Linked DNA regions of Homo sapiens: region 1 is linked to region 2. Evidence: fine-mapped expression QTL. Tissue or cell type: whole blood. Region 2 holds a variant in brackets; the other region holds the start of a gene. All regions are shown on one strand. Distances are between the middles of the regions. Region 1 holds the start of PAM (peptidylglycine alpha-amidating monooxygenase). Region 2 overlaps PAM (peptidylglycine alpha-amidating monooxygenase).

Evidence for each region.
Region 1: it holds the start of PAM, and the variant in region 2 is fine-mapped to the expression of PAM in whole blood (INTERVAL, PIP above 0.99).

What each region holds. Positions count from the first base shown.
Region 1 is chr5:102,750,421-102,759,099 of GRCh38, forward strand. It overlaps PAM (peptidylglycine alpha-amidating monooxygenase), which reads left to right and starts at 4,885. Exons shown (of 26, transcript NM_001177306.2): 1 at 4,885-4,928. RefSeq lists enhancers at 3,914-4,439, 5,447-5,947, 5,519-5,608 and a silencer at 4,579-5,128.
Region 2 is chr5:102,778,954-102,787,632 of GRCh38, forward strand. The region is part of intron 1 of PAM (peptidylglycine alpha-amidating monooxygenase); the gene reads left to right. Among named protein-coding and RNA genes, the nearest start is that of PAM, 28 kb to the left of the region's middle. The variant C/T (reference allele first, on the strand shown) is at 3,728.

The DNA.
Region 1 (8,679 bases), 29 kb before region 2:
TCCCATAGTGTTTCTGCCAGCTAATGAGGAAAATTTTTCCTCCTATATATATCATGATAGGTAATTGAATTAGTACTCCAGTAGGAAAGGGTTTGCTATTTCATACTTCTATAGTCTTTTCTTAACACCATGAAATTAAAGACATGCCAGCATGGAGCTGCCTATTCCTGATCGATTTCAAATAAGCAATGTAGTATATTATTGCTTTTATGTGCTTTTACAGCACATGCTGTGCAAGATAATTGACTCCATGACAGATGTCTATATTTCAGAGGAAAATTTATTTGTTAAAGAACAAACATGTATTACTTTAACATGGGGCTATTCATTATATTGCCCACAAGGTGCTTTTTGATGACTTCTAAATTGAAATTAATATTTTCTCTTGTCGTTCTGAATATGCATAAGCAAATTTGACTGTTTGATATAACCATTTTGAAGCTTATTCTGCTACTTGAATGTAACCTTCTGTACTCTTAGATCATGTTTGAAGTGCTGGGAAATGAGAAAGTGTGCATTTGTTTTTTTTTTAATTTTCAAAGAAGCCTGTAGGCCTGAACAGTTGCCAAGTTGTTCAGAGTAAGTTCTGTCCATCAGACCCATCTTTACATAAAATGACTATGAGAAAAGTCTTAAAGGGTACAGGAAATATTTTCCATGAATCCTCCTTTACTCTCTCACTTCTGCTTGAAATGTCACTCTTTTTCAAGGCAAACACTAGTAGGAAGTAGCATCTGAAGTCCCTAACACTTTTGTGTGAGGCAAACTGACTTGGAGAACTGGCAGTATTAGTTGGACAAGGCTGCTATGAAATAAAACTGAAAAAAGAGAGACGTTTACAAAGGAATGTCCATCTCCATCTACTTTGCAACACTGACGGAGACCAATTCTCCTGTCTGTAAATAAACCCTCCCATTCTTTTAGCTGTCAGAGTTTCTCCAGGAAGAAACTAGACCCTTTATCCTCATCAGCTGACTGGTCACCTTTTGCAGTAAGATCATACCATTAATATAAAATTAAAATAATCAATACCAAGGGATTACCATATTCAGAAAGGATATAAGTTTAATAAGGTTCTTTCAAGGACTATTTCTCTTTTGATGAGAAGAAAAAGAGAAATTTCTACCCTCTTGAACTTTCAATGGCCTAGCCTTTTGAGCATTAGAGGAAACAAGCGGGGGGCGGAGAAAGAGATTTTTTAAATTAAATTGGATATAGTATTTTTGAAAGTAAAACTGGGACACTAAGGACTAGTTTTGTAATGACAGAGTGCAGAGACAACCTCAGGTGGGGTGGAGCCCTGAGGAGAGTGAAAAGGGAGGCTTCTCCTCACCTAAGTGGAGGTGGTTGGCTCCACTGCCCAAGCTGGCCTGCACACAGAATGGAATGCCTTGAGGCTGTAAGTCTGAGGCTCTGAGGTGAGGTGCACTACTGGGCGTCTGACAGCACAGCTAAAATTGGCTGTGCCAACCAGTGAGAGGTGACAGCATGCCGGCAGCCCTCGCTTGCTCTGGGCACCTCCGTGGCCTTGGCGCCCACTCTGGCCGCGCTTGAGGAGCCCTTCAGCCCGCCGCTGCACTGTGGGAGCCCCTTCCTGCAATGGCGGAGGTCGGAGCCGGCTCCCTCAGCTTGCAGGGAGGTGTGGAGGGAGAGGCGAGGGCGGGAACCAGGGCTGAGCAGGGCGCTTGCAGGCCAGCTAGAGTTCCGGGTGGGCGTGGGCTTGGCGGGCCCACACTCGGAGTGGCCGGCCGGCCTCGCCCGCCAGGGCAGTGAGGGGCTTAGCACCCGGGCCAGCAGCTGCGGAGGGTGCGCCTGGTCCCCCAGCAGTGCTGGCCCACTGGCACTGCACTCGATTTCTCGCTGGGCCTTAGCTACCTCCCTGCGGGGCAGGGCTCGGGACCTGCAGCCCGCCATGCCTGAGCCTCCCCCAAGGCTGTGGGCTCCTGCGCTACCGAACCTCCCCAAGCCTCCTAGACTAGCGCTGCCCCCTGCTCCATCAGCACTCTGTGTCTAGCTCAGGGTTTGTGGATGCACCAATCAGCACTCTGTATCTAGCTAATCTGGTGGGGACCTGGAGAATCTTTATGTCTAGCTAAGGGATTGTGAATACACCAATCAGCACTCTGTGTCTAGCTCAAGGTTTGTAAATGCATCAATCAGCACCCTGTGTCTAGCTCAAGGTTTGTAAATCCACCAATCAGTACTCTGTATCTAGCTGATCTGGTGGGGACTTGGAGAACCTTTATGTCTAGCTAAGAGATTGTGAATACACTAATCAGCACTCTGTATCTAGCTAATCTAGTGGGACTTGGAGAACTTTTGTGTCTAACTCAGGGATTGTAAACGCACCAATCAGCACCCTGTCAAAACGGACCAATCAGCTCTCTGTAAAACAGACCAATCAGCTCTCTGTAAAATGGACCAATCAGCAGGATGTGCGTGGGGCCAGATAAGGGACTAAAAGCAGGCTGCCCCAGTAGCAACTCGCTGGGGTCCCTTTCTACACTGGAGAAGCTTTGCTCTTTTGCTCTTTGCAATAAATCTTGCTGCTGCTCACTTTTTGGGTCCACACTGCCTTTATGAGCTGTAACACTCACCACGAAGGTCTGCAGCTTCACTCCTGAGCCAGTGAGACCACGAACCCACCAGAAGGAAGAAACTCCAAACACATCCAAACATCAGAAGGAACAAACTCCAGACATGCTGCCTTTAAGAACTGTAACACTCACAGAGAGGGTCCGCGGCTTCATTCTTGAAGTCAGTGAGACCAAGAACTCACCAATTCCAGACACACCAGGACCTTGAGGGTGTGAGAGGTTACCGTCAGGTTACATTTAGAAGTGTTGTCCCAACTACTCTCCCACATTTAAGGCAAAAATATAGTCACCACTGAACAAGAAAATCATCTTGGCACAAAAATGTACTGAATTGAAGAAAGAAAACAAAGAGAAACAAAACACCATAGCCTAGAACTCCTGCCCCTCCACATTTTCTTCTCTCTCTCACACCACAAACTTTCTCTCTGTGACACACACACACACACACACACAGAGGAGAGACGTATTTGAGGGAGGGTCTCAAGTGCTTGCTTTCCTTAACAACCCAGACCAGGAGGAAGAGATAAAGTGACTTAGGAGATGCCTAAAGATGAAGAACAGCCCGGGATCCGTAAACAGACTCAGCTCGGTGTCTTCTCGCACCTTCTCAGAATCAAGTTTCCAAAATGAGGGTCATCCGCCTGCCTTGGAATTTGGGTTGGGAAGTGGATGGAGTTCCTGGACACATGCTCTAGGCCCTGACCAGTCTGGCCACTGCTCACTAGGAATTCTGTTGGGAGGGTGTACAACAGATTTTCCAACTGGTCTACAGCGAGCATCGGTAGTTTCCCTATGGAGAAAATGATTTTCTTTCTGGGAATCCCCCTATAGCCTGAAGGCTTTGCCTCATTTCCCATAGCTCCTCTCCGGTGTACCCCTTCGGTTCGCACTTTCCTACCTTCTTCCCAGTCCACTGGCTTCTCCTTCTTTATCTTCCTCAGTGTCCCTTCTCACAACCTCCCTGCTACCACACCAGATTCTGAAGGGGAGGAGTTGTCTGGAAAGACCAGAGCTGGGTGCTGGGGATCTGGAGCAGCTCGGGACCCGCGCTGCAGGGAGCTGGGATGGGAGAGGTGAGGGAGAGGAGGATGGGACTCTGGGAGAAAGAGAGGGGGCTGGGCTGGCGCTGGGGATGGAAGAGGCGAGGTGAACGCACTCAAGCGGTTACCTGCAGACAGGGAGAGACAGTGGCAAATACCTGCCTTCAATTAAACGCATATCAATTTGTGTGTGGGGTCAGTACTGCACATCATCAAGCCTCTTGGGTATAAAACCTTCCTACTGGAACTCTCCAGCCCCGCCCCCACCACCCCACGCGCGGCTCCCTGCTTTCTCTTGCTTTGGGGTGAGGCTGGGGATGTGGGTGGCTCCAGAGTTCCCTGCCCGCAGTTTAGGGGCGAAGTGATCGGTGTGTGCGCGCTGGGCACTCTGCGGGTTAAAAAGGTTTAGCAGAAAGGGATGCAGATGGAGGCGGGAAGCCAGGCTAAGAAAGGGATACCGACCTCCCTCCTCGGGTCGGAGGTGTGAACTGGGAAGCACTGCGCAGACCTGAGCGAGGTGGCCTGAATCCAGGGGCCGGGCAAGGGGGTGGTGTGAATAGAAATAGCACATTTCCCAGGCTTTCAGCCCCGGTACTCTGCCATCCTTCCAGTTCCATGCACTCAGCCAGGTCTCCAGGCTGGAGCAAGGGCTGGGGGTCAATGGGTCCTTCCTTCTCTCGGGAAACGTTCTTCTGGCGCGAAGCTGGGCGGAGGGAGAGTCGGACATTTTCCTCTGCTTCTCTCAGGGCAGCTGGCGTGGCCACCTCGCAAGGCTGCTTCTAGGGACACGAGACTCGGGAGGGTCAGAGACTTTCAGGCCGGGCCTTCACTCCCTTCCCCGGGGCACTTGGGCAAGAGTTCCAGCTCTTGGCTACCTCTGGCCCGCGCGTGAGTTCAGACACCCAGCACACGCGACCCCCGCAGGGAAACCCCGGGAAGCTGCGCGCAATCGCTGGGGACTCGCCAGGGCTCCACTTCCCAAGCTCCGCGCCCCCTGCGCCCAAAGAGGCAGGGCGGAGCAGAGGCCGCCGGCGTGGAGGAGGCGAGCGCGGGGCTGGCCCGGGAGCCGCCCCCGGGGAGGGACTGAGACCTGCCCCAGGAGTCGAGGGCGAGCGGCGGACCCGGCTGGGCCCGGCGCACGCCGAGGAGAGGGAGCCCCCGCCACCGCCGCTGCCTCCGCGTGCTCAGCCTGTCCCCGCCCAGGGAGCCGGAGCCTCCAACTAACTCCGCCCGCCGCTCCGCCGCCCGCAGGCTCCGGCTTCCGTCCCGGACAGAGCCCGTGGTCGCGCAGGTTGGTGTTGTTGCCGCTGCTGCCGCCACTGCGAGGCGGTCAGGGCAAGGGTGAGGGTGGGGGCGCGGAAGGGGGCCTGGGCTCGGGATCCTGCTGCCACCAATTCCTGGTGCCCCAGGAGGTTGTTGCTTTTTCTCCCGGGCTGCCCGGGTCGGGGGTGGGGGGATGGGGCGGGGATCCAGCGATGCGGCCAGGGAGGATTTTGGGGACTGAGCTATTCTCGCATTTCCCAAACCTCTCTCACGACCCTTCATCACCATTATTAAGTCCCTGGCCAGTTTGTGAGGGGTCGTCCTCCCCTCCGGTCCTTCTCACCTCCGCACTTCTCCTTGTGCCCTCTCCCTAGGGGGTACAATTTGTTCATTCGCCTTTTCTGCCCCCAACTTGGAGAACTCTCCGTGACGCCTAGAAAGCCTCCTCGGTTCTCCGCCCGCCCTTCAGTCTAGTTTGGGGAAGTAGAGGCCGCCGCGGAGTAGCAACCTGGGGTGTGGAGTGGGGGCGAGTGCCGGGAAGCAGTGGAAATTCCTTCCCCTCTTTCTTTCCCGTCCTTGCCCAGCTTTGCTCTCTTCCTGCCGTTTTGCCAGCCTCCGAATGTAATACGCGGGCGAAGGGCGATCTCCAAGGCAGAATGGGAAGTATCCACCACTTGGGATACTAGTTAAGTCTAGGTTCAGTCACCTTCCCAGCTCTGTGGCCTTGGGACCCGCCCCATCGGAACCTGTATGTTGTCATCTGCAAAATATGCGTCAGCTCTGCCTGCCGCTGAGGGTAGTTGTGGGGCTCCCTTGGGATGACTTAGGGTATTACGTGATTTTGAGCACGGTCTCTTGTCTCGTGCAGCTGCCTGATGGCAGGTCCTGTGTTCTGATCGTCTGAGTTCAGGTCCTTTGGCTGAGATGTGATTATCTCTCTGGGTGATTTGGTCAGTAGCTTTGCGGGGCTAAAAGGCATGTGTTCCTGGAGCTGGTCATTGGGGTTCAGAGTTGAAATCGTGTCGTCCCCACCAATCCCTGTGTACAAAGCTATGGACCTTACATCCTGTGCCTTTGTGGTCATAGAAATTCAAGTAGAAGGAAGATCTTATTGGACTTTGTTTGCTTCAGATGTTTTACATTCTTTACAATCGCTTTTCTCTTCTAGGTGCAAACTTAAATTTACTGCTAATTCTAATAATCCAGGAAGGATACTTTCATTTTAGTAAAATCAGACATTTAGCTCAAATAACATGTGACATATTGTTTGTAAATTTTCAGTTTATAATCACAGGCACAAAAAAGCATAGTTCATGCCATTCTAGTTACTTTATAAAGCAAGTAAATGGCCTAAAAAATCAGCTTTACAGGAAGTCAGGGCTGCAGTGAACTGTGTTTATACCACTGCACTCCAGCCTCGGTGACAGAGCAAGACCCTGTCTCAAAAATAAATAATCAGCTTTAGAATTGATATTAAATGGTAAGCCCTGTCGTTCCTGCATTCCTGACTTAATAGGCATTTTCATTCCGCGATGCACTCTGCTATATGCTTTAAAGATATAAAGATATAGAGTATGTTCCTTGTCCTGAAGGGCCTTCCAAGGTAACTTAAAGACTATGTAGTTTTATTTCATATTTTTATATGAACAGTCTTCTAATGACTATACATGGCAAGTAGAATGAGGTCAAGAATGCATTATCAAAGGCCCTTTAAGATCATCATTTGGCCGGCTGCGGTGGCTCACGCCTGTAATCCCAGCACTTTGGGAGGCCGAGGCGGGCAAATCACAAGGTCAGAAGTTCCGTACCAGCCTGGCCGACATGGTGAAATCCCATCTCTACTAAAAATACAAAAAATTACTTGGGCATAGTGGCAGGCACCTGTAATCCCAGCTACTTGGGAGACTGAGGCAGGAGAATCGCTTGAACCTGGGAGGTGGAGGTTTCAGTGAGCTGAGATCACTCCACACACTCCAGCCCTGGTGACAGAGTGAGACTCTCTCAAAAAAAGATAAAACTAAATAAATAAATAGATAAAAAATCATTTGGTGAGTTTGCATAATTGGAAGAAATAACAAGTTTGTTAAGACATTGCTTTCTAAAATAAAATGCCATGTGCTCCTACTTCATCAAGGTGCACTTGGAAATAAAATGAATTCTGTGTTTTTAGAATGAAAGCTTAGGAAAACATTCTACACATGTATGATGTGCTAATCAAATGTTAAAAGCTATAGAAATTTTAATTCTAACTTCCTTCAACTGTATGTTGTGGTTCCCACATACAGTTTTTTTCTCAACTCCTTGAGGAAGGAAATTATAATGCCTAGAAAAAATATACAGAGATTTAATGTAAGATTTTTAATAAGCTGGACCTTAAGGCCTGGTGGGTCCTGAAGTGACTCTGGAAATTTGACTTTAAAAGTTACGAGACTTGGTGAGACTGAGTGTGGTGGCTCATGCCTGTAATCCCAACACTTTGAGAGGCTGAGGCGGGAGTATTGCTTGAGTTCAGGAGTTTGAAACCAGCAACATAGTGAGACCTTCTCTCTACAAAAAATATTAAAAGAAAAAAAAAGCCAGGTGTGGTGGTGCACGCCGGTAGTCCCAGCTACTCAAGAGGCTGAGGAGGGAGGATCTCTTGAAACTGGGAGGTTGAGGCTATAGTGAGCTGTGATCATGCCACCACACTCCAACTTGGGCCACAGAGAGAGGCCCTGTCTCAAAAAAAAAAAAAAAAAAGACTTAGAATTTTGTTTTTTTTTTTTTTTTTTTTTTTTTTTTTTTTTTTCTTGGGGCAAAGAATGAGCAAGAATTCCACCTGGAAAAGATTGACCAGGGATCTTGACTTTCTGTCTAGGTTGTATTTTGTGTGACTCAGTGACATCTCTGATTCTTTTCCTCCTCCTAGGAAGAATTTATCTATCTGCTATGTGCAGAATTTATTAGGCTTTACATACTGGGCTTTGAGGCTTTGATTGGACTCTCACATTAAGGCATGGCAGGCTGAGGGGCAGCCTGAGGGACATAATGTTAACTTTACACTTGGCTTTATTGTTCCATACCTTTGTTTTTCTATTTGTGAAATGAGATTAAAGATCCTTCTTACTGCCCTGGAAGCCGTGTCATCTGGTATAATAGCCATAAATGCTTCTTGTGTGTATAAGAACTTTCTTTACCATTTGAATGCGAAAGCTAATTATTAAAACCACATACAAATAGCTCAAAAGATGGGCTGTGAATAAAGCTGCTGTTGGTGTCATGTGCTCTCAGGTATCCTGGCAGAAATTTCAGTCATCATGTATCCCTACAATTTACTGTGTTGTGGAGAATAAGGCCTTCATTTTATCTGGGGTTGAATGTTTACCTCTCCAAAATGGGAATAATGAAATACTAACCTGAAAGGACTGTTGTCAGCATTAAATGAGCTAATCCATGTGTGGTTCTTAGCACATTGCCAGTATACAGCTATTGCTCTATGACTCAAGTAGTTATTTTAGTTTCTCCAGGGTAGGGGGAGGGGGGAAGGAATGGAATTTCAGTGGTCCACATTTTAAAAATGAATACATATATAAAAATATAAATACACTCTTCCCCAATATTTTGAAATAGCCATTCCTCAGCTAACTTTTTTCATTCATTTATGCAACAAGTGTTTATTCAGCCCACACTAAACGTTTGGCTTTTTCCTAGGCACTGACATACAATGGTATACAAGACAGTTATAGTCACTTTCTTATGACTGAAAGGTCTAGAGAGGGATGCAGATCTGTAAACAGAGA
Region 2 (8,679 bases):
ATAGAATAGAATTATCTGTTGTGGAAAACTCCTTGGATTTGCCGTCAGAAAACCTGATGGGCTTCTCTCTGTGCCTCTAACTTGTCTTCTGCAAAGTGAAGGAATTGAGTGAGGTACTTTATAATACAAAGATTCTCAACCCTATTGGATCCAGTGTCTCCTTTTTCATAGCATATGTTTTGCAGTGCCCTCTTTATTACCAAGAAATGAAATTTATGTGTAATATAACCTGCCTAAGTGTGTAATTCAAAAATATGCATATATATGTGTGTGTATATATATGTGTATATATATATATGTATATATATAATTCCTAACTTTAATATAAAAGAGCAATACAGGAATAAGTAATTTATAATAAGATAATGTGTATTTCATTCAATATGTAAATGTTTAGTTATGATTACACCATAAGACCTAATGAAGTGTTCAAAAGCTTGATCCTATATGTAGAATAACAGTATGTGTGACAGCTACAAATGCAGATTGATGTCTTTGTTATATTGACCACTCAGATAAAGTATTCCCCCCCTTATCTGTGGTTTCATTTACTGTGATGGTTAATACGTGTGTCAACCTGATTGAACTGAAGGATGCAAAGTATTGTTCCTGTGAGGGTGTTGCCAAAGGAGATTAACATTTGAGTCAGTGGGCTGGGGAAGGCAGACCCACCCTTAATCTGGTGGGCACAATCTAATCAGCGGCCAGTGAATATAAAGCAGGCAGAAAAATGTGAAGAGGTGAGACTGGCCTAACCTCCCAGCCTACATTTTTCTCCCATGCTGGATGCTGGATGTTTCCTGCCCTCAAACATCAGACTCCAAGTTCTTCAGTTTTGAGACTTGGACTGGCTCTCAATGCTCCTCGCCTGCAGACGGCCTATTGTGGGACCTTGTGATCATGTAAGTTAATACTTAATAAACTCCCATATACATATATATATATATATATATATATATATATATACACACATATATATATGTATATATCTCCTAATAGTTCTGACCCTCCAGGGAATCCTAATATAGTTACCCTTGGTCAACTATGGTCCAAAAATTTGGAGAGTTCCAGAAACAAATAATTTATAAGTTTTTAATTGTACACCATTCTGAATAGCATGATGAAAACGTGTGCCCCCTGCTCCATCCAACCCAGGATGTGAATTATTTCTTTGTCCACTGTATCCACATTACATATGCTACCCACCTCACCTGTTAGCCATCTGGGTTATCAAATTTTAAAAGAACATAGCATATATAGGATTCAGCACTATCCACAGTTTTAAGCATTTACTGGGAGTGTTGGAAGATATGCCCCGAGGATCAGGGAAGACTACTGTACCACCATTGGCATTGTTGTTGGTGATGTGATTTTTCCAAAATGATGAGCAATTCTTGGCAAAATTTCAAATAAAACTAAATATTGTCTTTCTTGATTCATGTAGTAACTTCATTTCTAAACATAAGGGGTTTTAAACCATGTAAAAAATACTTGTGTTTTTATGTAAAATGGATTTGGGTCGTAAGCTTAGCTCATCATAAAGACATTTATTACCTATGTGATTTGTAGGACATTTGAGAGTTAAGTAGGATGTGGTGCCGTACTTCATTAAAAAAAGGTCGTGCACATTGCATGGTGTACCTCCCGACTGAACTCCTGCCTACTCTTGCTGGCAGCTCTCCCCACACCAGCCCTGACAACCAGATTTCTGAATCTCACACTAGGGGGCAGTACTGCATCCCATGAAAAATCATTGCTCTAAGGCAGGTTTCTTAACCTCAGCACCTTTTTCTTTCTTTCTCTTTCTTTCTTTCTTTCTTTCTTTCTTTCTTTCTTTCTTTCTTTCTTTCTTTCTTTCTTTCTTTCTTTCTTTCTTTCTTTCTCTGTCTTTCTCTCTCTCTCTCTCTTTCTTTCTTTCTCCTTTCATATTTTGGGTCAGGTAATTCTTTGTTGTGGGGGCTGTCCTGTGCATTGGAGGCTGTTTAGCAGCATCTCTGGCTTCTACCCCCTGGATGTCAGTGTACTCCTCAAGTTGTGATAACCAAAAATGACTCCAGATGTTGCCAAATGTCTCCTGGAGGGTAAAGTTGCCCCAGGTTTAAAAGCACTACTCTGAGATCTCTATCAGCTCCAAAAATCTGTCATGAGAATGATACAGTATTGATTAATATGCAAACATTGCATACAATACTTGTAGATATTGCTAACATTTTTGGGCCAGGTGAAGCCAGTAAGAAAAGCTTTTAATAATTACTCATTTTTTTGGGTCATTTAACACTGGGATTATATTATTGCCTGGCTTTAGAAGGGTTGAAATTATGTACAGTATAGGGTGATAAATTTTGTAGTATGAGAGCATAGGAGAACTAGAATTTCAAGAAAGACTATTCCAAGAAGGTCCTTTGGCAAGTAAGAGTTCATTGAATTCCTTTCTGACAAGTTTGACATTCATGTTAAAGGTTACAAAATCAGAATTTTAGTTTTGTAAGAAGTAATAGAAATTCAGTGGGTACCTTCTCATTTTACAAGTGAGTAAAAACCTAAATGCTAAAGTGCAGTTCACAGTTTAGTTGTGAATCAGGACTTTAATGCATGGCTTTGGTGTCCCCTGTGCTGTTCCTTTTACCACATTGCAGTGCTGCTCAGCCAGGCTATATTTATAAAATATTTTTAGCTTTCTGCAAGCTCTAAGTCTTGATAGGAAATAAAAGACAAAATAACATTTTTCTTTAAAACCTTGATCTTTAGAATGCATGCCAGGAAAAATAAGTGAGAAGGTCAGTTATTATATACAGGGACTTGCATTCATAGATTAAGCCCAGAAATATTTTTAATACTAATGTAATAACAACAATTTACATGGTGCTTCTTGTGGATTAGCCGTGCTCTTCTAAGAACTACACGTTTTTAATGCTTATAACAACCCTATGAAAACAGATACTGTTATAATCATCTCCCTTATGTAAATGAGGCATCAGGAACTTAAAAAAGCTTGCCCAAGGTCGTAAGGGTAAGTGGCTGGTCTGCGATCTGAAAACAGCCAGTCTGCAGTCCACATCCGTGTTCTTGTCCACTACTTACTCCAGCCTTAAACTTTGAACTGAATAAGGATGGATTGGTTTTGTATCCTTGCTCATGAAATGGATATTCCTAGGAGCTCAACATTTGGAGAATTTCAAACCTGAACACTTTAGAACACATTATGTTTTCTTCAAAGAGTAAATCATACCTCACACTTCTCCAACATTTACACCAAAGGTGAATTTGCTCTTTATAGGATATAAGAGCTTCTTTCATCTTGTCCATATCTGAAGCACTTAAAGCAGAACTCTGGTATGAAGTTCATAGCCGGAACGAATCCAGATCTAAATTGAAAGGATTATACAAAGTCATCTTCCTTGTTTGTTTCACCCTTTGTTTTCCCCCCAGAGGAAGGAGAGAAGATTTTGAAATCCTTTATTGCAAAATGAGTTTGAAATAGATACAAATAATAAATATGATTGACAGCTATAGAGGAGAAGGAAAAAACTTGGCTCTTGTTTTAGAAAGATACTTGAAAGGAAAACATCTATGTTTATTGAGAAGTGAGAAGTACATGCAAATCTTTCAAACATAATATTTGAAAGTGAAAATCACGTCATAGGATTTAGAGATATTCCCAAAGTCAATATTTGGTTCTTAAGTTCCAGGTAGTGGAAAAGTCAGAATCAGTTAAGTACCCAGAGCA[C/T]TTGCTCCCTTCCTTTCTCCATTTCTCTCTCTCTCTCTCTCTCTCTGTGTGTGTGTGTGTGTGTGTGTGTGTGTGTGTGTAATTTTATTTATTACTGGTGAAACTGGTACAGGCAACATGTTGGCTTTTTTGTCAATCAGTTTTTTTTTTTGAGAAATTTTGCTTTTGTGAAAAATCTGCCTTTTCAAAGTTTTCTTTCCTTCTATTATACTCCCCATATTTTTGGTGTATCTGAGATGCTAATGGCCTTTCATTTTCAAGTTTTTATTTCCCAGTTGGCAGTACCACTTTTACACTTTGAAGATGGAAACTTGGCAGGAAAATTGTATGTCAGGGTGTATTTCTGTGTGGGGTTGCAAGGGCAGGAAAGAAAAAAAACTCAAATAAGAGGTATTTTCATTGAGTATGATCTTAGCTGGTGGCATATATAATTACCCAGTTATTTCTCTCATGAAATGAATGTTTATATTTGTTGTCATGACCAGGATCAGCTACACAGTTTGTGGGGCCCAGTTCAAAATGAAAATGTGGGTGTATTACCAGATTTAGCAAAAAAAAAAAAAAAATAGAGATGCCCAGTTAAATTTGAATTTCAAATAAACAATAAATAATTTTGATTATGTCCAGAATATCCTGGGACAAATATGATTCAGTTTTCTATCACCATAAATTAGTTTAAATGACCATTGCTTAGATCTGTCTTCAATTTCAGTGAAAGCAAAGGTTAAAACTCATCTGAGTTGCAATAGAAGGTGTTGCCTAGAATCATTGATTTTTTCAATACCAACACCAGTATTTGGAATCATCCCTTTATTTGGTCCCCACTGAAGTTTTCCCACCGTAAGACAAGGTTCATAGTAAAACTAAGCCTGAAGGCCTGGGTGGGAGAAAATAATTTGCAGATTCCAAATTCAGTCTCAGTACAATTTTAGGAACGAATATATATGAAGACCAAAGATCTAGAAATTAATTCTCTTTAAACTACCTCTGTGCCAGTTTGCATACTGGAATGTCTTTGAGTATCCCTTGGGATGTGCATGCAGCAGTATGAGGGCCACTTAACTAGAATGGAAAAGGGGAAGATGAATAGAACCCAGCGCCTGCCGTCAGGGAGCATACCAGCTGGAGGGTGACAGCCTCAGGAAGACCTAATTGTAGAACACTTGAATGGTTTCCCTCTCCTCTTGGATCAAGTTCAAAATTCTTCATGATCTACCCCCATCTTTTTTTTTTTGAGGTGGAGTCTCGCTCTGTCACCCAGGCTGGAGTGCAGTGGCGCAATCTCGGCTCACTGCAAGCTCCGCCTCCAGGGTTCACGCCATTCTGCCTCAGCCTCCCAAGTAGCTGGGACTAAAGGCGCCCGCCACCACGCCCAGCTAATATTTTGCATTTTTAGTAGAGATGGGGTTTCACCGTGTTAGCCAGTATGTTCTCGATCTCCTGACCTTGTGATCCGCCCGCCTCAGACTCCCAAAGTGCTGGGATTACAGGCGTGAGCCACCGCGCCCGGCTGATCTACCCCCATCTTTCTCTCTGTTCTTACCTGGTGCTCCTCTTCTCCCTGTGTAACCTCTAAGCTCCAATCATACCAGCCTTTCTGTCCCTAGCACACCTAAGCTGCTCCTGCCTATGTGCTATTGGGTCAAGCTGTTTTGGTGGGCTAGAATGCGCTTTTCAGTTTCCCCCCTTGCACCCACACACCTTAGATTTCAGGTTTCCTTGGCACCGTAAGCTTGGAAAAATTTAGGTATCACTGTTGTAAGCTCTCATATGACCCTGTCCTCCTCCTTGTACAGTACTTATTACAAAAGTCACTAACGTTTGGTATTCATTACCTTAAACTCTGATTACTTTTGTGCTGTTCACTTTCTGAGGACAGGTACCATCTCTGTCTTATCTAACCAGATATTCCCAGCAGAGAATGTAGCCTCTTCCATATTAAGGGTGAGTCATACATATATGTAGAATTGAATTAAAAATATACTCAACGTATTTGTTGAATTGAATTGATGTTAACATTTATGTGAAACATGACTTTGTGTCAGTCACTGGCGGGCATTTACTATATATTATCTCATTTAATTCACACAAAATCATTTGGGAATACATGCTTTTAGATAGGCAAACTTTATTATTGTTGTTATTCGTTTACTAGGAATTTTTAGGCAAAGCAAGTGCATAAACACCAGGTGAGTGGTCTTAAATGCCATGTTAAGGATTTGGAACTTTTTACTAAACACCAGTGATTCTCCATACTTTAGGAAATCAGAATCACCTGGAGGATTAAAAACAACAAAAAAGCAATGCCCGCATATAATTGGTTTAGGATTCAGCAAGTCATTTTATAAAACTTCCCCAAATAGACTTTTTTGTTGTTGTTCTTTGTTTTTTTATACTTTAAGTTCTGGGATTCATGTGCAGAACATGCAGGTTTGTTACATAGGTATCCCAAGTAGTTTTAATGCACAGCACTGATTGGGACACTAAAAAGTAGTGATGCTAGCCCAGCAGCATTAACACCACCTGTGAACTAGTAAGAAATGCAGATATCTGGGCCCCTTCCCAGTTTCACTTAATAAGAAAAGGGAGGGGGGAGTCCCCAGCAATCTGTATCTTAGCAAGCCTTTCAAATGAATCTCATGCCCTTTAAAGTTTGAGAACCTCTGTTATAAACAATTGGAAACTTAAAAAGCTTTGTACTTTTGTGTTTTACAAAAGAACTTTGGTAGATACGTGGGAGACTGAATAAATAAGGGACAAACCAGAGGGTAAGGCAACCTGTTAGAGCTGTTACCTTTAGAAGTATCATGTGGAGGTAAGAAGATGGCAATAAGAACTAGAGTGGTGGTTATAGGAAGGAAGGAAGGTGGTGGGATCAGGAGATGTTTCAAAAACAGAAATGGTGAAATATGGTGACTGATTGGCTTGAAGAGGTTGAGGGAGAGAGTGAGGTCAAAGAAAATATAATTTCTTTCTGAGTTAGTTAAGTGACATCATGAAACAAGGCAGAAATGTGTTTAGAAAGTGTAAGTTGGGGGAAACCATAAAAGTATTGAATATAAGGTGTCTTCAAGCATCTAGTAAGAGATGTTTTTGTCTCGTTGGAAATTTGGTTTCTGGAACTTTGGAAACAAATGGGGAGTAAGGAGTGGTGTTGGAAGTTCTCACCATTGTATTTAACTTTTTAAAAATCATTCATTCAAGTGGTTATATATGTACTAAATTATTTTTTTAACATGTTCGTTTTATTTCAAATTGAGCCAAAGATGTTGAACTTTACACAAACTATAATCTCTTACATTGGATCATTTATATGAAGTTATTTTTAATAATTATTAGAATTTATGGAATATGTTAGCAGAATTATGGTAAAGCAAAGTTTGCATTTTGTAAATTTACTGTTCCATTCTTGGGTCAAGTGTACAGTGAACACATTCATTTTCAGAGAAAGAACTGAGAGGACACAAGCAAGAATACATTTCACATTTCAGCTGTTAAAGGAGGCAATTTTGTGTCATGTAAGCTCACAGATCCTGGAGCCAGACTGAGCTCTGTCCACATGTAGAAGGTGTGACTTTGAACAGACGTTACTTAAACTCTGAGCGTCTTCATTTCCTAATATGCAAAATGGAGAAATTAGTATTATTCATCTCAGGCTTTTTGTAAGCATTGAATGAGTTAAAACCTGTAAAAGTACTTTGAATAGCGCCTAGAATTTAATTCGTAATCATTAGTGTAAGCTCTTATTAATATCAATTTTTTATTCTCTACTTAGTCTTATTTTCTAAATCGTTGCTATTAACAGTTTCTGAGTTTTTTAATGTGGTTTCTGTTAGTTTTATGAACTGCTGAACATCAAAGGGAATGATTATAAACTAGTGATTTCTAGGAATTAAATTTTGAACCATTCATGGAGAAAATGGAGAAAGGCATCACAAATGTAGTATAATTTCTAAATAAATAGCAACTAAAAATTACTTTCCAAGTTAGACACATGCCATTTTTTAGGTCAAAGTTGCGGGTCAGAAAGGTACTGGGCTCCAGATTCTTCACAGCTTGAAATCTTACTTCATTCATCATTCTGAGCATAGTCAGTAGCAAATCAATAATTTACTTGAAAAGAAACAAGTAACTTACTACTCTTTTGATATGTGGTATAGAGGTCAAGAATATATCTTAAAAACTCTATATCAAAAGTTATAAATAAGATAACTACCAAGCAAAGGCTGATTATAATTAATAATAATAATGATAAATCCCAGCAGATATATTTGACCCCTGTAATGAGAAGAAGGTAACACCTCTGGAAGCAGAAAAAAATCTTACTCTCCCATCTGAGATTTGTAAATTAAGGCTGTTCATTACTGCTGTTGAATTATAATGATCTGAATTTCACTTAAAATCTCTTAATTTAGAAATCATTATGCTGGTGGAAAGGCCAAGGAGAAATGCTTCATCCTTAGCATTTTATTTATCCTCCTCAAAATAGTTTTACCATCCTTATTTTTCAATCTATTTCAAGTGGGGTTGGGAGCTGGCAGAAGAAGAATAGATGTAGTTCTTGGTATTTGCATCTCTAGGTCCCGCCAGACCCACACAGCTCTTCTGACTTGAGCATGTTCCAGCCATGTTCTAAATGTAGCTACCATTATCCCGTGCTGTCTAGAGTTCTTATGTTCTGGGACCTGAGACATATTTTCTGTACCTTTCACTAAGCACAGGAAATCTATCCCAACTATGGGGACAGATCTGTCCCAACTGTGGGGACAAAACTGCCTCCTTTAACAGCTAAAATGTGAATGTAAATTTTTCTATACCTTTCACTAAGCCCAGGAAATCTGTGCCCAATTATGGGGACAGATTTCCTGGGCTTAGTGAAAGGTACAGAAAATAGGCTACTGTATGGTCTAAATGCCTAAACTCAGCTTGAACAAGACCCCAGTCAGCTTCAC